4 linked regions of the Homo sapiens genome follow. The protein of the gene in region 1 purifies or fractionates together with the protein of each later gene. This does not show direct contact. Each region holds a gene or a part of one and is shown in the gene's direction. Other genes may lie near its edges.

Region 1 (5,336 bases):
ACTTTACATGCCTTAAGCCAAAAACCAAAAGGGACTGTGTGCAATGTATTAGTCCACAGAATGGAGCAATCCAGGACTGCACTGTCTCGGGCACGGCAGGATCCAGGAGCTCAAACCCTGTCATTGGGAAGCCGGCTCTCCCATCTCTGGACTCCTCATGCTTCTGCACTGCTCGTTGTCAGGCAGACTTATTCCTCATGGTGACAAAATTGCCACCAGCAAATTAGGCTTAAATCCCCAAAGCTTAGCAGCCCTGGCAGAAACAGACCTGAACTGCGTGGACTGAGAACTGGGGAAAAGCAATCCCAGATGAAAATCCTGGAACTAAGCATTAGGAATCTTCAGAGAAACAGAACTGGCAGGGTGTGTGTGTGTGTGCGTGTGTGTGTGTGTGTAGAGATTTATTATAAGGAATTGGCTTATTGATAATGGAAGCTAAGCAGTCCTGAGATTCTTCAGTTTGCAATCTGGAGACCTAGGAGAGCCAATGATGTAAGTTCCAATCCAAAGGCCAGCAGGCCTGAGACCCAAGAAGAGGGGTTGTTTCAGTTCAAGTCCAAAGGCAGGAAAAGACCAATGTTCTAGCTCAAGCAGTCAGGGAGGAGGAGCTTCTGGTTACTTAGCTTTTTATTCTATTCACATCTTGAGTTGATTGAATGAGACCCACCCACATTAAGGAGAATAATCTGCCTTGCTCAGTCTACAAACCCCAATGTTCATCTCATCCAGAACACCCTCATAGACACTCCCAGAATAGGGTTTGGCCAAATGTCTGGGCACCCCATGGCCCAGTCAAGTTGCCACATAAAAATGACCATCATGGCCAGGCCCAGTGGCTCACACCTGTAATTCCAGCAGTTTAGGAGGCCAAAGTGGAAGGATCGGATCGCTTGAGCCCAGGAGTTCGAGACCAGCCTGGGAAACATAGGGAACCTCATCTGTACAAAATAAAAAATAATAACCTATCCAGGTGTAGTGGCATACACATGTGGTTCCAGCTACTCAGGAGGCTGAGGTAGAAGGATCACCTGAGCCCAGGAGATGGAGACTGCAGTGAGCCATGATCATACCACTGCACTCCAACCTGCGTGACCCAGTGAGACCCTGTCTCAAAACTTAAAAAAAAAAAATTATTTTTTTAATGAACACCACAAACTGTAAACAGAAAAACAGGGAGCCGGGGAAGTGTATATAGGTCTTACATAGACAAAACCAACAGTTGTCCACTATCCATATGGTGGAATAAGATGCAGCCATTGAAAAGAAGACATGGACTGGGCACAGTGGCCAAGGCAGGAGGATCACTTGAACCCAGGGGTTCAAGACCAGCCTGGGCAACAGGGCAAAACCCCATCTTTACAAAAAATCGGCTGGGCATGGTGGTGCATGCCTGTAGTCCCAGCTACTCGGGAGGCTGAGGTGGGAGGATCACTGGAGCCTAGGAGGCTGCAGTGAGCCGTGATCGCGCCACTGCACTCCAGCCTGGGTGACAGAGTGAAACCCCATCTCAAAATAAATAAGTAGATATTTTTGAAAGAAGATTTGGTTAACTTTATGTATCAGGCAGAAAGCATTTAACTTTTGTTTTAAACTCAGTTAAGCCTTATAAGAACCCTTTGAGGTGGGGACTATTATTATCATCATTTTACAAATGGAGAAATCATAGCAGAGAGAACTGGTATAGCTTGCCCAAGGTTGTACCGCCACCAGCGGGCTGAGTTGGCATTTGAACCCAGGCCATCTGGCCCCAGAGTTAATGCCCAGAACCACTATTAAAGTGTAAAGTGCCGGTGCCCAACAGGAGGTCTGGTGTGAGGCCTCTGTGGAAAACAAGAGCCCCCTCCCCATCCACATATGTTTACCTGGTTATTTAAAAAAAAAAAAAAATTTTGGAATGATGCATACGAAACTGTTACTAGTGGTTATTTCTGGGCGATGGGTTTTAGGGGCTGGGAGGAAATATGGATGGCTGGTTTGGGTTCTTTTTACTTCACATCATTTTTACTATGAGCATGCCTTAGTTTTGTAAGTGAAAAATGCCATCTTTGGTAGAATGTTTGTTGTCACTTGCACCCACGATGGAAATCTCTGACTTCTACGCTCCTAACCTCCAATCTGTATGGCTTTTCCCTGTGTCCACAGGTGACTTTGGCAGGCTATGGCTTCGCCTTCCGCTATTGCCCAAGTGGCAAACACGTGGCCTACGTGGAAGGCAGCAGGAGCCCTCACGAGGGGGACCTTGAGTTCATTAGCATGGACCTGCACAAGGGATGCGGTACGAGGCCAGGGATGGGTTTGGGACCGCAGAGAGATGCTTCTTATACAAGGGCAGCTCTAGGAGTTCACAGCCAGAGACAGCAGGTGGCCAGACAGGAGAGGCACTAAGGGCGCCAGGACAGGGATTGGAACCACAGACAGCGTCCCGACCGCAAGGGAGGTGGGTGGGGTAGCGGTTCAGCACTAAGCATAGTGGGAGGCTGGGCACTGGGGAGCCTGAGTTCCAGAGGTTGGGGTTCAGGATCTGTTGTAGACTTGGAAGATGGGAGTTGCCTAGGAGTCATCCAGGAGGGGCTGTTGAGGAGGTGGTTGGCCACCACATCTGGAGTGTGGGAGGGAGATCTGGGCAGAGGCTCTGCAGTATCTCAGAAGTTATCAGCCGAAGCCCTGGGAGAGGATGGGATCATCCAGGGAAAGTGTACAGACTAGGAAGAGGGCCCAGGGCAGATTTCTTGAGCCCCTCTTTCTCACATCCCTTTATATCATGGCCGTCCACATGCCTGCCACATCCTCCCATCAGACTGAGCTCCCCCAGTACAGGGATGGCACCCCTGCCTCCAGCATCGGGTGGTGGAAGGCCAGCACGGACAAGTAGTGCTTGTCGAGTGCTTACACAAAGCGTTGTCTAAATTAAGCGTTGTCTTATGCTCAGGAAGCATAAGAAAAATAAACTGTCAGAGTCTCCCCCGCCCTCCCCCACTGAGGCTGGGTTTGGTACCCATCCTTCTGGGCTCCCGTGTGTTCTGTGTCCTTTGTCACTCAGGTAGTCGCACGCTATAGCTGTCTCCCCACTAGGCTGTCACGGGCTGGGACCCGACGAGATCCTGGTCTGGGTTTTCAGAAGTGAGCTGGGCCTGGCACACGGGTGCTGAGGCTTGATTGAATGAGTGCATGAATGAAAGAGGAGTGGATGAGGGTGACCTGGTAAAAGGGGCTGAGAGAATGGTTGAGTGAGAGAGAGAATGAGTCAGCTTCTGCCTACTCATGAAAGTGAATGAGCGGAGGAGACAGCCCATATGGCTGGAAGGCTGGGTGTATGAGTGTGTGGTTGAGTCAGTGAGAGAGAGGGGAAGGAAGGGGGGTGGACCCACCAGTGAGTGGAGCGTCCAGACTTGAGCTGCCACCTTTACTCCTCCTTCCCCAGGGCCCTCCCGCCGCAGCGACCTCCAGAGCCTGGGCTACTGCATGCTGAAGTGGCTCTACGGGTTTCTGCCATGGACAAATTGCCTTCCCAACACTGAGGACATCATGAAGCAAAAACAGAAGTGAGTCTAGGGGTCAGCAGAACCCCTGCAGGTGGTCAGCAGAACCCCTGCAGGTGGACAGAAGCCCAGAGCCCAACTGGGAGCAGGAGGGAAGGGGAGGTGGCATCCAGCAGAGCCCAAGTCCTCTGAGCCGCACAGGCATGTGCTGCAGTGTCCACACAGCAGGCGAGGCAGGTGTTCCGGAGCCACACTGCCTGGGCTCAGACTCTGGCACCACCACTGTGGGGTGTTAACGTCTGCGAGCCTCAGTGTCCTGCTCCATGAGATGGTCTCCTACTAGCTACTACCTTATGGGACTGCAAAGAGTTCAGGGAAGTCAGGTGCACACAGCACTTAGCACAGGGGCTGGCTCAGAGAAAATGCTCATTGTGGCCGGGCGCGGTGGCTCACGCCTGTAATCCCAGCACTTTGGGAGGCAGAGGCGGGCGGATCACGAGGTCAGGAGATCGAGACCATCCTGACTAACACAGTGAAACCCCGTCTCTACTAAAAATACAAAAAATTAGCCAGGCATGGTGGCGGGCGCCTGTAGTCCCAGCTACTTGGGAGGCTGAGGCAGGAGAATGGCGTGAACCTGGGAGTGGGAGCTTGCAGTGAGCCAAGATTGCACCACTGCACTCCAGCCTGGGCGACAGAGCGAGACTCCGTCTCAAAAAAAAAAAAAAAAAAAAGCTCATTGTGTGTGGGAAACTATGACTCATTCATCACAAACATGCAGGCAATCTGAGCAGGATAGGCCCAGGCCCTGCCTCAGCACTGGTAGCACCACCTATGCAGTGTCCACACTGCCAGATCAGTGCCTTCACCTCTGTGTAAACCACCAGGTCTTACCAGTGCTGGTTTAAACATTCAGCACCAAAGCCGGTGGACAGCGGAACATATGAGGAAGTTCTGGGGTGAGATTGAACACTAAGGGCATTGAGCAGCTGGACACAGAGGGAGCACTAGGGGTATGGGTTCAGCACTAGGGACAGCAGGCAGCTGGGCACAAAAGGGAGGCACTAAGGTGTGTGTTCAGCACCAAGAACAGCAGGCAGCGGGACACAAAAGGGAAGTGCTAGGGATGTGGGTTCAGCACCAGGGACAGCGGAGCACAAAAGGGAAGCGCTGTGGGTATGAGTTCAGCACCAAGGACAGTGGGCAGCTGATCCTAGCGGGCGTGCTAGGCATGCACTTCAGACATGAATATCAGTTGCCCAGGCCGGGCACGGTGGTTCACGCCTTAATCCCAGCACTTTGGGAGGCCAAGGCAGATGGATCTCGAGGTCAGCAGTTCGAGACCAGCCTGGCCAACATAGTGAAACTCTGTCTCTACTGAAAATAACAAAAATTAGCCGAAGCAGTGGTGGGCACCTGTAATCCCTGCTGAGGCAGGAAAATTGCTTGAACCCGGGAGGTGGAGGTTGCAGTGAGCCGAGCTCTCGCCACTGCATTCCAGCCTGGGTGACAAAGCAAGACTCCGTCTTGGACTTGTTGCCCAAGTCATCTGGGAGGCAGCTGGCCATCTACGTCTGAAGTGCAGGAGTGAAGTCTAAAGGGAGACTCAGACCCCGGGAATATCTCCGGAGCCATCAGCTGAAGCCCCAGGAGAGGATGAGATTATCTGGGAAGGCATATAGAGTGGGAAGAGGGTGAACCCTCCAGTAAATGGCGTTGAGTCCCTCATGTTTCCCTGTCCTTAGTGTGCCGTGAAGTCCTTCCCAGTCCTTCCCTCACATGAAGCCTTTCTCGTTTTATTTTACTCCCTTCGTGTCTCCCAACTTCCTTCTCTCAACCATGGACAGCTGCTCAAGC
Region 2 (3,500 bases), on another chromosome or scaffold:
ACCACACACAACCGAGATGACTTCTGAATGCCAGGCCCCACCACTTTCAGCCACCCCATCTGAATATGTTGTTCTATCAGACGAAGAGGCAGTCGAGTTGGAACGATACACACCCTCTTCTACATCTGCTTCTGAATTTTCAGTACCACCATATGCAACACCGGAGGCACAGGAGGAAGAAATTGTCCATAGATCTCTAAATCTAAAAGGTGCATCCTCACCCATGAATTTATCAGAAGAAGATCAAGAAGACATTGGACCTTTTTCTCCAGATTCTGCATTTGTGTCAGAATTCTCATTTCCACCGTATGCAACCCAGGAAGCAGAGAAAAGAGAATTTGAGTGCGATTCTCCAATATGTTTAACATCACCATCTGAGCACACTATTTTGTCAGATGAAGACACTGAAGAAGCGGAACTGTTCTCTCCAGACTCAGCATCACAAGTTTCAATCCCTCCCTTTAGAATCTCAGAAACAGAGAAAAATGAACTTGAGCCTGATTCACTATTAACTGCAGTGTCTGCTTCAGGTTATTCCTGCTTTTCAGAAGCAGATGAGGAAGACATTGGATCCACAGCTGCTACACCTGTATCTGAGCAGTTCAGTTCATCACAGAAGCAAAAAGCTGAAACTTTCCCTTTGATGTCTCCGCTTGAAGACTTAAGTCTGCCGCCTTCAACAGATAAATCAGAGAAAGCAGAAATTAAGCCAGAGATTCCAACAACCTCAACATCTGTATCTGAATATCTCATTTTGGCACAGAAGCAGAAAACTCAAGCATATTTAGAGCCTGAGTCTGAAGACTTGATTCCTTCACATTTAACCAGTGAAGTGGAGAAGGGAGAAAGGGAGGCAAGTTCATCAGTAGCTGCAATACCTGCTGCTTTACCTGCACAATCATCTATAGTAAAGGAAGAAACCAAACCTGCATCTCCACATTCAGTTTTACCTGATTCAGTCCCTGCAATCAAGAAAGAACAGGAACCCACAGCAGCACTCACTCTAAAAGCTGCAGATGAACAGATGGCTTTGTCAAAAGTCAGAAAGGAAGAAATTGTGCCTGATTCTCAAGAAGCTACAGCACATGTATCACAGGATCAAAAAATGGAGCCTCAGCCTCCAAATGTTCCAGAGTCTGAGATGAAATATTCAGTTTTGCCTGACATGGTAGATGAGCCAAAGAAGGGTGTCAAGCCCAAATTAGTTCTAAATGTGACTTCTGAACTAGAACAGAGAAAGTTGTCCAAGAATGAGCCTGAAGTAATAAAACCATATTCACCTCTAAAGGAAACATCTTTATCTGGACCTGAGGCTTTATCAGCAGTGAAAATGGAGATGAAACATGATTCCAAAATAACAACTACACCTATAGTGCTTCATTCAGCTTCCTCAGGAGTGGAAAAGCAAGTTGAACATGGTCCACCTGCACTAGCATTTTCAGCTTTGTCAGAAGAAATTAAAAAAGAAATTGAACCCAGTTCCTCAACAACTACAGCATCTGTAACTAAGCTTGATTCAAACTTAACCAGAGCAGTAAAAGAAGAAATCCCAACAGATTCATCTCTTATCACTCCTGTAGATCGTCCAGTCTTAACAAAAGTAGGAAAGGGTGAATTAGGAAGTGGTTTGCCACCACTGGTAACATCTGCAGATGAACATTCAGTTCTTGCAGAAGAAGACAAGGTGGCAATTAAAGGTGCTTCTCCCATTGAAACTTCATCCAAACATTTAGCTTGGTCAGAAGCAGAGAAGGAAATTAAATTTGATTCACTTCCAAGTGTCTCCTCTATAGCAGAGCATTCTGTTTTGTCAGAAGTAGAAGCCAAAGAAGTTAAAGCTGGGTTGCCAGTAATCAAAACATCATCTTCTCAGCATTCAGATAAATCTGAGGAAGCAAGGGTAGAAGACAAACAAGATCTTTTATTTTCTACAGTCTGTGACTCTGAACGTTTGGTTTCATCACAGAAGAAGAGCTTGATGTCTACCTCAGAGGTGTTAGAGCCTGAACATGAGCTTCCACTCAGCCTATGGGGTGAGATAAAGAAGAAAGAAACTGAACTTCCTTCATCACAAAATGTGTCACCTGCATCCAAACATATAATCCCAAAAGGCAAAGATGAGGAAACAGCAAGTTCATCTCCTGAGTTGGAAAATTTAGCATCAGGTTTAGCCCCAACATTACTGCTCCTCAGTGATGATAAGAACAAACCGGCAGTGGAGGTATCTTCTACAGCTCAGGGAGACTTCCCATCAGAAAAACAAGATGTTGCTTTGGCAGAGCTGTCTTTGGAACCTGAGAAGAAAGACAAGCCACACCAACCGTTGGAATTACCAAATGCTGGGTCAGAATTTTCTAGTGATTTAGGTAGACAAAGTGGATCCATAGGTACAAAACAAGCAAAGTCTCCCATAACTGAAACAGAGGATTCTGTTTTAGAAAAAGGCCCAGCTGAGCTTAGGAGCAGAGAAGGAAAAGAAGAAAATAGAGAGCTTTGTGCATCTTCTACGATGCCTGCAATTTCAGAGCTTTCATCATTGCTTAGGGAGGAATCTCAGAATGAAGAAATTAAACCTTTCTCTCCCAAGATCATCAGCCTAGAGTCGAAAGAACCACCTGCCTCTGTAGCTGAAGGAGGCAACCCAGAAGAATTTCAGCCATTTACTTTTTCTTTAAAAGGATTATCAGAGGAGGTTAGCCATCCAGCCGACTTTAAAAAGGGAGGAAATCAAGAAATAGGCCCATTACCACCAACTGGAAATTTGAAGGCACAAGTCATGGGAGATATTTTAGATAAGCTAAGTGAAGAAACAGGCCACCCAAATTCATCCCAGGTACTCCAGAGTATAACAGAACCATCAAAGATTGCTCCTTCTGACCTCCTTGTAGAACAAAAAAAGACAGAAAAAGCACTTCATTCAGATCAAACTGTTAAATTACCTGATGTAAGCACCTCTTCTGAAGATAAACAAGATCTGGGTATTAAGCAGTTTTCACTTATGAGAGAGAATTTGCCTTTGGAACAATCAAAATCATTTATGACAACCAAGCCTGCGGATGTCAAAGAAACAAAAATGGAAGAATTCTTTATTTCTCCAAAGGATGAAAACTGGATGTTGGGAAAGCCAGAAAATGTGGCTAGTCAACACGAACAGAGAATAGCAGGATCTGTGCAGCTGGATTCCTCTAGCAGCAATGAGCTGAGGCCAGGGCAGCTCAAGGCTGCTGTGTCCAGTAAGGACCATACATGTGAAGTGAGAAAGCAGGTCCTGCCGCATTCTGCTGAAGAATCTCATTTGTCATCACAAGAAGCAGTATCTGCTCTTGATACTTCCAGTGGTAATACAGAGACCTTATCAAGTAAAAGTTACTCTTCTGAAGAAGTAAAGCTGGCTGAAGAACCAAAGTCTTTAGTCCTAGCTGGAAATGTAGAGAGAAACATAGCAGAGGGGAAGGAGATTCATTCTTTGATGGAGAGTGAAAGTTTGCTATTGGAGAAAG
Region 3 (3,500 bases), on another chromosome or scaffold:
TGTTGTCAAGTATTGTGTTGTCAACTGCTGGCACAGTTCTTTGACCTCATCACTTTATTATCTATAGCTCCTTCTGGCTTCATGATCATTTATTCATTCTTTCAGCAGGTGTTTATTAAAGTTCCTGTTAAGTGCTGGCATTGTGCTATGTGCCTGGGATACACTGATGGCTAAGAGACATATTCTCTGCTTTCATAGATCCTATATCCTGAGAAAGGAGATAAGACCAAGAATATAAAAAATAAAAATTAAAGGAATATTTAGACATTGTGATAAGACACTGAAGCAGGAAATACAGGATATTTAGCTAGAGAATAGCTACTATCCCTGTTTCCATGGTTTTGGAAGACTTTTCTGATAAGATGACATGTCAACCAGCACCTGAAGGATGAAGAGGTTGTAGCATACAAAGAGCAAAAGGAAGTGCATTCCAAGACAGCAACACGTGCCAAGGTTCCAAGGCAAGAAAGAAGTCAGTATATTACAGTAACTGAGGAGGCCAGTATTATTAAAAGGTAGAATTAGGAGTAGAGTTGTATGAAATGAAGTAGGCAGGGCTTCTGTAGGCCATGTAAGGAGTTGGGTTTTTATTGTATATATAATGAGAAGGTATTTAAAGGTTTTAAGCAGGAAATAACACCTATTTCTTGTTTATGGGATATTATTCCTAGCGCTCTGTGGATAGGGGCTTGGAGAGAAGGGGTGTGAGTGGAAGCTGATAAATTAGTTGAAGCTGTCATACTAGTACAGATACAGGATTAGACTAGGGTAATAGCAGTGGAGATAGAAAGAAGTAAATGAGTTTGGAATTGGATAGGAGAGATGAAGGAAGAAATCAAGAATGGCTAACCAATTTCTGGCTTCAGAACCAGGTGGATGGCACTGTTTATTAGATAGGAAGTCTAGGGAAGGCAGATTTTGGCCATGGTGGTTCAGTTTTGGAAAAGTTAAATTTGCAATGTCTAAGACATCAAAGAGGATACATCGGGTAAGAACGTAGGCACATCTAGAGCTTAGAGAAGTCTGGGGTAGGAAAAAAATCTAAGTATTTATAAGGGTATAGGTAACATTTAAAAGTAGGGCTAGCTGACATTATTTAGAAAGAACACATACGGAGAGATAAGGGCAAAGGACTAAGACCAGAGGAACACTAATATTTAGTGATCACTTCCATTCTTGGTAAAAATAGTAACTTTTAAGTTAGCTTCAAGGAAGATTTTTGGCCATGATTAGTTGTCAAAAGTTAGTTCTCTTGGGTTTATATTACTAATTTTGTTTTTAAGATCCTTGTTAGTGCTTTAATAAAGTCATGTTATATCAAACGCTCTAAAACATTGTAGCATGTTAAATGTCAGAATATAGTAGATTTGTTGTATATGGCTGTACCTTCAGAACCCCTAAAATTAAAAAGGAACATCAAATACTGTCCCAAACCCCATATCTAATTATGTTGATCTAATTGTCTACAAAATTAGTGACTCATGTTGAGGCTGCTTCACTTATATTTTGCTCATCGTCAAGTGGATTTAGGTCTGCCTAATCGCTAGATGTGTGGTGGATGCTTTTGGCTTATATATCTGGCTGTTGGTTTAACAGAGGGTTTGGTGGACGTTATTCTCTATCATCAACCCGATGACAAAAAGAAGAATCGGGGGTTCTGCTTCCTTGAATATGAGGATCACAAGTCAGCAGCACAAGCCAGACGCCGGCTGATGAGTGGAAAAGTAAAAGTGTGGGGAAATGTAGTTACAGTTGAATGGGCTGACCCTGTGGAAGAACCAGATCCAGAAGTCATGGCTAAGGTAAATACAGTTGCTTGGAATGGGCATAGGGTCATCATTTAAATTTTGTACTCAGAATAAAGCTCAAATATTTTGAGTTTTATGATAAATAGAAATTGTAGCTTTAGACTTCAACTGTTTGGCAAGGAGCGGCTTTAACACTAAAGTTAACAGCCTGTCTTGGTATCCAGGAATTTCCATTAACAATCCCTTTTCCTGCAGATTAAATGTGCAAAAGGAACTGAAATGAAATTCCTTCAATTAAGTAGTCCCATACACACTGGGTGTTTGTTTAGTGCTAGGCACTGTGAGGGATAGAGGTTTTTTTTTTTTTTAAAAGTCCTGAGTAAAGAGAGAAGTAATGTTTTGGAGATTATAAGTTATAATCTTCATTGACTATATTATGACTTTATTACTTGGCCATGAATTATGTTTTATTTAGATTTATAGCTAATTTTTCTTTTTTTAAGCTTTTTTTGTAGTTTTTATTTTTAAAAATATTTTATTTATTATTATTATTTTTTGAGACAGAGTCTTGCTGTGTTGCCCAGGCTGGAGTGCAGTGGTACGATCTCGGCTCACTGCAACCTCCACCTCCCAGGTTCAAGCGATTCTCCTTCCTCAGCCTCCCAAGTAGCTGGGACTACAGGCGCCTGCCACCATGCCCGGCTAAATTTTGTATTTTTAGTAGAGACAGCATTTCACCATATTGCAGGCTGGTCTCGAACTCCTAAGCTCATGATCTACCCGCCTTGGCCTCCCAAAGTGCTGGGATTAAGGCATGAGCCACCGTGCCCCGCCTCTTGTTTTTAAATGATCAGATTCCCTTAGTGTATTGTCCCCATGAAGAAAGGCAAAAGATTGTCATGTTTGCTCTTATTTGTTAGTGGCAAAATATGCATGGCAAGTCCTGTAAAGGGCCCTCAATTCCCTCCTGATTCCTGTACTTGCGTTGCCAGGATCTTAATAGTGGTGCCTTGAGTACTGGTTCTTAAGTTTTCCTTTGGGCGACTCCTGGGACACATCAGAGTTGCATTTCTTTTTTTTTGAGATGGAGTCTTGCTTTGTCCCAGGCTGGAGTGCAGTGGCGCGATCTCCACTCACGGCAAGCTCTGCCTCCTGGGTTCACGCCATTCTCCTGCCTCAGCCTCCCAAGTAGCTGGGACTACAGGTGCCCGCCACCACAGCTGGCTAATTTTTTGTATTTTTAGTAGAGACGGGGTTTCACCATGTTAGCCAGGGTGGTGTCCATCTCCTGACCCTGTGAACCGCCCGCCTCGGCCTCCCAAAGTGCTGGGGTTACAGGTGTGAGCCACTGCGCCCGGCCTCAGAGTTGCATTTCTGCTGCTTGCAATGAGCTCTTGAGCATTTTAGTTGTCTCTTCCCTTCACAGGGAGGCAGCAACTCTGAATGGCCATGAGTTAATGGTTGGATTCTTCTTGATAAGTCAGAAGTCAAGGTTTTTATTCCAGAATTTGAGGAGGCAAACCCTCGTTCTAAGTAGTTTGGAGGAGAACTCTGGTTTATACTTGTATAAAGTCTGGGTTGGCAGTGACATCTTTGGGTTAATCAGATAAGTTCTATTCAGAATGAACCAGAGAGGCTCTCAGAAGTGCTACTCAGTATCTTTTATCTCATATTCCTTGAGTAGATGGGTGTCTAGGAAAGGGATAGAGAATTTAAATAGCTCTGAGTTTTTATTTTGATTTTTTACTAGCT
Region 4 (3,500 bases), on another chromosome or scaffold:
AAAGTTAAATGTTGGGTTTTGTCTATGTCGTGGTATAAATAATGTATAAATATATACATGCTTTTGTTGTGTTTTTTTTCCATTTTTGTTTTTTTTTAATATTTAATATTGAGAGTTTTGAGAACTTCTGTCTCCTAATGATGGAGTTGCAGATAAAAAATCACAACATGCTAATTTTTTTTTGGCATTCTCTCCTAGAAAGATGAAATCTTTTTTTTTTTTTTTTTTTTTTTTTTGAGACAGAGTTTCGCTCTTGTTACCCAGGCTGGAGTGCGGTGGCACGATCTCAGCTCACCACAATCTCTGCCTCCCGGGTTCAAGCGATTCTCCTGGCTCAGCCTCCCGACTAGCTGGGATTACAGGAATGTGCCACCACACCCAGCTAATTTTTTGTCTTTTTAGTAGAGACAGGGTTTCTCCATGCTGGTCAGGCTGGTCTTGAACTCCCGACCTCAGTTGATCTGCCCACCTCGGCCTCCCAAAGTGCTAGGATTACAGGCATGAGCCACTGTGCCTGGCCAATCTATTTTTTTTTAAATAAAAATGAGTATTAACATTATCTATTTCCATGATGACCCTAAAAACATTAAATTCATTAAACTCATAATAGTACTAAGCATTATATCTAATTTCCATTGCATACTGCAAATATTTAAGGTAACTTGTGCCCATAAGAACAGAGTTAGTTGCCTGGAGAGTGATTAGAATTAGAATCTTAGGATTTCTGGAAAATCTTAGGATTTTCTCCATTGTTCAAAGACACGTAGATAAATAACCTTAACCATACATCCTCTACTTCCACCCACCTTTTTGGGCTGATAATTCATGCTTCTTAGATTTCCTGGGCACTAGATGTCACTATTGTTCCAGGCACTAGTGCATCTTAAATAAGGACTTGCACTGTGTCAGAATACTTATCTGTTGTCTAAGACGTTTCAAGAGAGAGCATAAAACGGAGGGAGAAGTGGAGGGAGAGGAGGGAGGGCTGGTGGAGGGAACAAGTGAAAGTGACCTCCCCGACAAAAATATGGGGCCTTTCTTCACTTCAAAAGAGTAAAAAGTTGAGAGCCAGAGATTGGCATCAAGAACGAAAAACTGATGTTACAAGCGAACTGGTCATGCTTTTAAAAATAGCTTTTCAGTTCTTGTATATATGCACAGGATTTCTCATTAAAATCACCTTTGATTGTTTCTTGGCCTTTTGGCTAAGATCAAGTGTAAAATCACCTTCAGAGAGTGTTTAAAACAAACTCCCGGGCCTCTAGAGGTCTCATTCAGTAGGTTTGGGGCAGGGAGGGACTTGACATGTTTAATGAGCCTTGGGGTGATTCTGATGTTTCCTTGCACCAGTGGAGCAGGAGTTAGTCTTCGTGATGTCTAAGATTAATTGCCACTGATAGTCAGAACAACATTCTGCAAAATTTGATTTAACCCTTGAAGGGGGAAGCATGTTTTCAGGGAAGCCACATTTTTTTTTCTGTTTTCTTTATATTCCTTAAGATCTGTTTTCCTCATCAAGCATGATATTGGCCATGTCCTTGGTAATAGTGGGTTTTGTGGCTATGCTCAGATTTTCATTGAGAATCAGAGGAAAAGGTTGCTTATCTGTATTATTTTGGGCTTTATATGCTGTCTTCCTCCATGGTCTCTTTCATTTATCTTTGAATTGGCTGGATTTGACTGGCAGAATAAAGAAGGGTGGGGCATTTATTTAAATAAGTAGGCCAGACATTACATCGCACAGCCGAAGGGCTAGTGGGTTATATTTGTTGTCTTCCCTTTTGCTTAGTTTGACCCTTAACTGGTAACTCACAATAACCTCAAGAAGGTTGGAATTTCTCAAGAGAACAAGAAGGAAGTGGAAAAGAAACTGACTGTGAAGCCTATAGAAACCAAGAACAAGTTCTCCCAGGCGAAGCTGTTGGCAGGAGCTGTGAAGCATAAGAGGTTAGTCAGCACTCACACAACTCAGATTTCTCTCTGACCGTGTACTCTGAAACACCACTTGTAATGGAAGCCAGAGCCAACGCTTGCCTCGCGTGAGTCCTGGTGAAGTTCCCTTGGTGTGCTCACCTATCTCTCCCTTTCCAGATTTGAGGCCTTCTATAGGCTTTGACCCTCGTCTCTCTGATCACTTATTCAACAAATATAAATAATAGCTACTCTTCAGTGGGGATCTGCCACACCAGGCATTGTGTTAAGTGCTTCCTGTGCATAATCCCATGTATTCTTCAACAACCCTATGAAGTACAATTATAATCCCTGTTTTGTAGATGAGAAGACCAAGAGTTTGAGAGGTTGAGACCCTTCTTTGTGCAAGATCATAGAGAAACAGAGAGCTAGAGTTCATTATTTGGGCTTCTGTCTAGAAAAATGAGGTAGTGAGTCTTGTGAAAGGATCTGTGTAGGGTGTACTGAGAGCAAGGAGGAGGAGCATACAATGCTGCTGGGAGGGTGTTGTGTGCATCTTCATGTTGGGGAGGTTGGGGGAAACCATTGGAAAGATGCTGATTAGGTAGGACAACTAGGGCTTTGACAAGCAACAAGGGAGAGAACAGTCTAAGCAGAGGGAATAGCTGCTGCAAAGGCATCCTGTCCTGAAAGAACATGGCAGCCCTGGCAGGGTTACAGACCTGGCTGTGGCTAGGTTTGGATTGATGTGGAAGTGATAGCACTGTCTCAAGGCTATGATAAGTTCTTTGCTATGTTTGCTCCTCCCTTTCCAAATCCTGAAATGTCATCAGAGTGATTGAATCTGGTCATTTAGATTTGACCCAACAGACTGTGGGCGAAATGATAAGTTTAAGTGCAGTCTATTAGGAAAATCAATATGATATATTGGCAACCAGCCATATGTTTTGAAGGGAGTGTATTGATGCAGTCTTGTGGTTTGGCACACCACCCATCTGCTGCAGATGTTCTTAGGAACACTGCCTACATGTAAAAATGTCATGCTGGTATAGCAACAGAGGGGAGGAGTTATCCTGAGAAGGGCTCGCTACCCAAACCATGAATTATTCCTTTCAAGTTCTCACATAAGCTTTCCTGCAAGACTAGGGACTCGCAGGATTTGGACCTGGGTCAGTTTTACTGGAATATGCCAAGGGAGGGCTCTCCAGGTGATCAATTTGTTATCCCTTGAGACTGCTCTTGGTGGTCGCAGAATGGGTGTTGTAACTGTTTCCCTTAGTTCTTAGATCACCTTTAGAAAAGGCTCTGTAGTAGCGTATTTGGTGACCTGCATATAACCCCTTTTGGGTTTTGAAACAACATCATTTAATGTTTCTTTGTGTAGTAAGGTAGTCTCCTGGGGCAGGAGTTCCTAATCTGTCCGACCCTGAGTTTATTGGAATCACCTGGGAGTTTGTTAATAATTTATATTCGCAGGCCTTGCACTAATTCTGGTTCAGTAAGTTTGAAGTGAAGTCTGGGAGTCGTAGTTTTCAAAGTTCCATGAGTGATTCTGCTGCCTGGTGAAGGTCTGGAAGCCATTGGCATGT

The links.
Region 2: the proteins of VRK3 (region 1) and CMYA5 purify together in Homo sapiens (affinity purification with mass spectrometry, with the first as the bait; one large-scale study listed by BioGRID). This does not show direct contact.
Region 3: the proteins of VRK3 (region 1) and HNRNPR purify together in Homo sapiens (affinity purification with mass spectrometry, with the first as the bait; one large-scale study listed by BioGRID). This does not show direct contact.
Region 4: the proteins of VRK3 (region 1) and PSME3IP1 purify together in Homo sapiens (affinity purification with mass spectrometry; one large-scale study listed by BioGRID and IntAct). This does not show direct contact.

The regions. Positions count from the first base shown.
Region 1 is NC_000019.10:49,986,578-49,991,913, reverse strand, and holds part of VRK3 (serine/threonine-protein kinase VRK3), read left to right. Parts: intron 1-2,142; coding exon 2,143-2,275; intron 2,276-3,421; coding exon 3,422-3,542; intron 3,543-4,980; coding exon of another isoform or gene 4,981-5,077; exon of another isoform or gene 5,078-5,336. UniProt on the Homo sapiens protein: Plays a role in the regulation of the cell cycle by phosphorylating the nuclear envelope protein barrier-to-autointegration factor/BAF that is required for disassembly and reassembly, respectively, of the nuclear envelope during mitosis.
Region 2 is NC_000005.10:79,731,336-79,734,835, forward strand, and holds part of CMYA5 (cardiomyopathy-associated protein 5), read left to right. Parts: coding exon 1-3,500. UniProt on the Homo sapiens protein: May serve as an anchoring protein that mediates the subcellular compartmentation of protein kinase A (PKA) via binding to PRKAR2A. May function as a repressor of calcineurin-mediated transcriptional activity.
Region 3 is NC_000001.11:23,316,785-23,320,284, reverse strand, and holds part of HNRNPR (heterogeneous nuclear ribonucleoprotein R), read left to right. Parts: intron 1-1,587; coding exon of another isoform or gene 1,588-1,596; coding exon 1,597-1,802; intron 1,803-3,500. UniProt on the Homo sapiens protein: Component of ribonucleosomes, which are complexes of at least 20 other different heterogeneous nuclear ribonucleoproteins (hnRNP). hnRNP play an important role in processing of precursor mRNA in the nucleus.
Region 4 is NC_000016.10:57,165,540-57,169,039, reverse strand, and holds part of PSME3IP1 (PSME3-interacting protein), read left to right. Parts: intron 1-1,813; coding exon 1,814-1,947; intron 1,948-3,500. UniProt on the Homo sapiens protein: Promotes the association of the proteasome activator complex subunit PSME3 with the 20S proteasome and regulates its activity.